2 separate regions of the Homo sapiens genome follow, and region 2 is linked to region 1. A link means that fine-mapping ties the variant in region 1 to the expression of a gene that starts in the linked region. Tissue or cell type: whole blood. Region 1 holds a variant in brackets; the other region holds the start of a gene. All regions are shown on one strand. Distances are from middle to middle. Region 1 has its middle 20 kb from the start of BATF. Region 2 holds the start of BATF (basic leucine zipper ATF-like transcription factor).

Region 1 (2,913 bases):
TAAAGCATATAACAGCCTCTCTATGCACACTACTATCCTCAAGGATATATCTGGAAGGATACAAGATTATTATTCCTCTCTCATTCTACTGGTAGGGATAGCTTTTTTGGATCCACGTAGATACATGGTAGGATTAAGAAGTTAAGGACTGGCTGGGCATGGTGGCTCATGCCTGTAATCCCAGCACTTTGGGAGGCAAAGGCGGGTGGATTGCTTGAGCTCAGGAGTTTGAGACCAGCCTGGGCAATATGGCAAAACCCTATCTCTCCAAAAAGAAAGAAAAGAAAACACAAGAAAAGAAAAGAAAAGAAAAGAAAAGAAAAGAAAAAAAAGTTAGCTGGGAGTGGTGGTGTGCACCAGTAGTCCCAGCTACTCTGGAGGCTGAAGTGGGAGGATCACTCAAGCCTGGGAGGCAGAAGTTGCAGTGTGCTGAGATCCTGCCACTGCACAATAGAGACTCTGTCTGAAAAAAAAAAAAAAAAGTTAAGGCCTGAGAAAATAGATGCACCAGTGGGCTTTCTAATTCCATTATTATCTAAAGATTACTCTTAAAACCCCCTCACATCTCTAATCCAAGACAGACTACTAAGCTCGTGTGCTTCACGTGCCATTGAGATGACAGAGAAGACATGCAGAGAGAAACAGATTCATAACAAAGCTTAATAATGGGAGGGAGAAATGTGAGCAGGTCAGGAGACAGCCTGAATAATTTCTGGGTAAGAGAAAATGAAAGAACCATCGTGAGAGAGAAACCATGGTGGAAAGAGCCTTGGCTAAAACTAGTAACGTGCAAGTGCCAAGACTGGAGTAGAAAACGGAGCAGAAATGAAGGTGGGCATCAGGGTACTGCCTCAAGTTGCACCATCCAACATGATAGCCACTAGCTACATGTGGGTATTGAGCCCTTGAATGTGGCCAATTAGTTCTATTAGAAGCAGAACTAATCAATTTTATTTTTATTTATTTATTTATTTACTGAGCCAGAGTCTCGCTCTATCACCCAGGCTGGAGTGTAGTGGTGAGATCTCGACTCACTGCAACCTCCGCCTCCCGGTTCAAGCGATTCTTCTGCCTCAGCCTCCAAAATGGCTGGGATTATAGGTGCCTGCCACCAGGCCCGGCTAATTTTTATATATTTATTAGAGACAGGGTTTCACCATGTTGGCCAGGCTGGTCTTGAATTCCTGACCTCAAGTGACCCACCCGCCTCAGCCTCCCAAAGTGCTGGGATTACGGGTGTGAGCCACTGCGCCTGGCCAGAACGAATTAATTTCAGATGCGCACTGAAGTATTTAAGAGTGATGTGTCATGTTATCTACAAGTTATATATAGATAGTATCTTAGATGATATTATTAAATTATTGTTAAATTCCTTAGGTGTGATAATGACATTGTGGTTATGTCCTTGTCTTTAGGAGATGTACACTGAAGTACTTAAGACTGATAGGTCATGTTCTCTACAAGTTATTTTCTAATGGCTTACAAAGAAATATGTAAGAGTGTGTGTGTGTGTGTGTGTGTGTGTGTGTGTGTGTGTTTGTGTTTAAAACTGGTGAACCTATTACAGAATGGAGGCTCACTGTTCTAGTATAGCAACTT[T/C]TTGATTGATTTGCTTTTTTCCCCAAAAATTTTTAAAAATGGGTGATAAAATGCTACATGATCATAGTAGGAAAAGTTTATGTTATTTTGTCACCAAGATGAAACAAAGGTGACTCCAGTAAAAATCTATATAGAAAGTTGTAATTTGAAAAAGAAGCAAACCAAAATGTAATACAATTTTATGCAATTGGTAGATTGTAACAATAAAAAAAATCCATTTGACATTTGATCTTGCAACAGTTCCCTTTAGGCGGCTCAGTTTGAATAGCATAGGATTACATTTGCTTGTCTGCAGGTCAAACCTCACTATTTAGATTGTCACTAAAGAATACACAATAAAATTATTGTAATTACTGTCTTCTGTTTTCAATTCTTAGGAACAATCTTTGAATAAAGCATGGAAGACTAAGTTATAGTAAAGTAATATAATAAAGTCATGGTAGAATAAAAAATGACAATGTTATTTATAGTGGTGTTTCTTCCGGTTTTAATTTTATTATTATATTTTCTTGTTTGTATGTTTGAAATATTTCACAGTAAAAAAAATTAAAAGTAATTGTTTATTAGCTGACCATAATCAGAAATAGAAATAGGAGATACAGAGAAGGTATTTATAAGTTCCCCAGAGAACAGACTCTGAGACTCTAAGACTTGGGTATAGGGAGGTTGTTGGAGAGTGTTCTCAGAAACATCACCTGTGAGAGTTGAGGGAGCCAAGACCAGGCAGGGGAGGAGTGAGTAGATACAAGGCCCCAGTCAATGCTGCAAGAAGTTTGGGAGGAGGCAGATGGCTCTTCAAAGTTGCTCCATTGAGGCCAATAGGCTGGCTACACCATTATAACACATAACCCATACTGACCAGTCACTGGATATGGGCTGCCCTCTGGGAGGTGGCATAATCTCTCACATAATCTCCAGGTAACTCCCTTCAGCCAAAAGCAATTCTTGGAGAGGGACTCAGCTGAGACCTCTTAGCTGCCAGCACTCCCCAAAGTTGGGGAATCAAGGCCTTGGTCCTGAAAGGGATCTGGGCAGCACGCCACACCACAGTGTCCATTACAAGGCAGAAGGAAGTCTGCCTTGTGTATTTTCCTGAACTTACACTTTGTAAGTTAGACATACTGTAAAAGGTGACGGGCCAAGAAATTGAGATGTAAGTATATTATTTAAAGTTATAAAGATTCCGATAGACTTAATATAAAAATAAAAATTGGGAGGGAGAACATGCGGTGAAATATAACTGAGTTAAATTCCTCAATATTCAAAGTATAAAGGAGTTTTCAAACAATCTTTAAAGTAGATAAACTAAGAGAG
Region 2 (2,913 bases), 20 kb before region 1:
ACTTTCAGGCCTTTGTGGTAGGAGGTCATTGGCATAGATAGGAAGGAAGTGCTCTTCCTCTAAGGGGGATGGGGCACCAGGTTACCATGGAAGCCATGAGTAATTTCCTTCCTAAGAAAAGTACAAACTTCCAGGCAGTCAGAGCCACTCTGACACCATCTTGAGCAGCAGACTGGATTCTGTGCCTTCTAGAGGTCTCCACCCAGACTCATCCCAGCCTGCTGCTCCGTTATTAGAGGCTTAGGATATACGCCCTGTTCAATATTTATATACTTTTATTTTGGCTGCAGCATTTTGAAAACCCTTGTGGATATCTGTGCTAAGGAAAGAATGAAGTTTTTAAACTATGAAGGTTGAGAAAATTTTAACCCACGGATACATGTCGGATGAGAAAGAGGAGGGCTTCCTACAGCAAGGGATGTCAAGAGTGTGGTGCAGAACAAAACCCTAGAAGCTGTGAGATGGGCAGGGCACTCCTTTTTTGGTAATCCTCAAGCTAAAACCTTTGGACTTGGAAGTCACAATCTAGACTCCAAATGCTCCCACAATCCCTATCTCAGTCTCTCTGGTTTCCCCAGAGCTAAGATGAACTACCAGCAAATGTCTTCCAACAAATTTCCAGAGCCACCTCCTCATTCATTTCCTTGCTCCTATCCAGAAGCCACAAGCAAAGAGATATTGGCTGGACCTCTAGCATCTCCCCTTGCTGGCTGTGCTAGCAACAGAGGCAGTGCCCCAGTAGAGAGATCCTTCTATGCTAGCCTGGGTTTCTCCTCCTCCTCCTCCTTCTTCCTCTTCTTCTTCTTCTTTTTTTTTTTTTTTAACTTTTCCCTAACCCCTTTTCTCCCCTTCCCTATTGGCTGTCTCCTGGGAAACTGCATATCTAGGATTTGAGCTGTGCATGCCAGCGGCCCACTTGAAAACTCCTCTCACTTTTCTACAGCCTTGGAGAACAGTAGACTCTTTTCTCTGCATTCTTTGATGTTCATCCTCCTCTTTGCTTCCTAGAAAGCTTTTTAGGGTGGCAACCCCAGTGAGGCAGAGGTGATAGGCAGCCTTGGAAAATGGAGAGAAAAAGGGGCTTTGGCAGAATGGGTGGAAGGATGAGGATCTCTGCCAATATGCACAGCTTAGTAGCAAATTCCATGTCCTAAGTCTAACAGAGTGCCCGTGCAACGAGCCACTTCCTCCATCCTCAGCTCCCTGGGCAGGACAAGGAAGCCTGGCTCTCTTTCCATCCCCCAGGAGAATCAGAAGGTAGGAGAGAGAAAAAGGAGGACTCTACCTGTTTGCCAGGGGGAGGAGAGCGGCTGAAGCTGGAGTCACTGCTGTCGGAGCTGTGAGGCATGGCTGAAATCTTCCGGGCTCTCACACTCAGCCCCAGGCACCTCTGGGCTCTCTTGTCACCAGCTGGGCTCCCTTCCTGACTTCTCCTGGGCCACCAGCCCACCACCCCCTACAGGTGCCTCCTCTGCCTGCCCTGTAGCCACCTCTGACCCCTGCGTCCTCCTCACTCTGGGGTGCAGAGGGACTGCTCCCCAAAGGGACATGTCGCTCGCTTTGGGGCTTGCACGCTCTCTCTCTCTCTTGTGGTTTCTGGTAACTCACGCTGGAAGTCACATGGGCGGAAACTTCAGCGAGTTAGAAGTTAGAGAGAAAAATACATATCTGGGAAAAGACCTACAGAATTATGTGAAAGAAAAAAAAATACAGATACCTTCCGACAGTTTGAAAGACACAGCAGCCCTCTTCAATTGATGAAGATAAAAGAGAAAAACAGCCCAGGCAGGGAAAAACCCCAGCCAGAATTAGCAAGTCCGTCTTCTGTCAACATGGGCAGAGAGGAGAGGACAACCAGGAAAATGTTTCCATTGTCATACGACTTGATTTTTAAACCAAAATAAAGCAAAAACACTGGGATTTCTTTCTGGTTTTCAGCCGAAAGCAGCTGCTCACCCATCTTGTCTTTCCTCACCCCTTAAGTCCAGCCAGCCTCGGGGTGGTCTGGAGATAAGACGATCCAAGGGTATTCTCCTTTCCTGACCATCAAACACAAGGGCTGTGGGAGATCAGAAAGCCACAAGGGAGGTTCTAGAATTGCTGCTCTGAAAGCCTATTAAGCGCCTGTGCTGCTTGGCAGGGAGCTCACACTCTTTAGAGAAAAGATGCCTTCCATATTGAGCAGCTCAAGACAGGCCCTGAATCTTTATGATTCAAGGTCACCTGGTCAGAACCCAGAATGCAGAAACAGTTAAAAAAAAAAAAGAAAGAAAGAAAGAAAGAAAAAGTGAAACAAATACTACACTTGGAGTCAGACCAACCAAGATTTAAATTCTGGTTCTACCACTTTGTATGTCTGTGGCCCTGGGTAGCTCACTTGAGCTATGTGACCTTCATTATCTTCATCTGTAAACAGAGGATGATAAAACCTGCCCTGCCTACCTCTTAGGAATGTGGCACAAAGCAAATGACAACGCGGATTAGAATGCCCCGCAGACTCTGAAGTAAATGACCGAGAGGGTAAGTGTAGGGTATTCCCAGCCTTGCCATGAGCGCATTTGTAGGGTTCTCAGTGATCAATTCAACCCTCACCTGGGCATCGTGGCTTTTTCAAAAGGCCTTACCTTATTCCCAGTATGGCTCGAAGCCAAACATTTGCCTTATTAAATTTTAGGATTGACAGGAAGTTACGGCTCCTAGAGGATTTTTGTATCCATGAGCTGAATTTCTAGACTAAGACAATATTGCCCTAAGGTTAAATTAAGTAAGACAAAATTCCTTTCCTATGGAGGAAAATAAAGCAGGGTTGGAGGTTAGGGAATTCTGGGTGGTCAGAAGGGCCTTGCCCAAAGAGGGGATACCTGAGCAGAGATTCGAAGAAAGAGAGGGAGTGAATGGTGAGTGTCTCAGGGA

The links.
Region 2: BATF starts here. The variant in region 1 is fine-mapped to the expression of BATF in whole blood (TOPMed, PIP 0.96).

Annotation. Positions count from the first base shown.
Region 1 is chr14:75,500,952-75,503,864 of GRCh38, reverse strand. No RefSeq gene overlaps it. Among named protein-coding and RNA genes, the nearest start is that of BATF, 20 kb to the left of the region's middle. The variant T/C (reference allele first, on the strand shown) is at 1,600.
Region 2 is chr14:75,521,118-75,524,030 of GRCh38, reverse strand. BATF (basic leucine zipper ATF-like transcription factor) reads right to left here and starts at 1,562. Exons shown (of 3, transcript NM_006399.5): 1 at 1,286-1,562. The coding sequence starts at 1,348. RefSeq lists an enhancer at 1,265-1,594.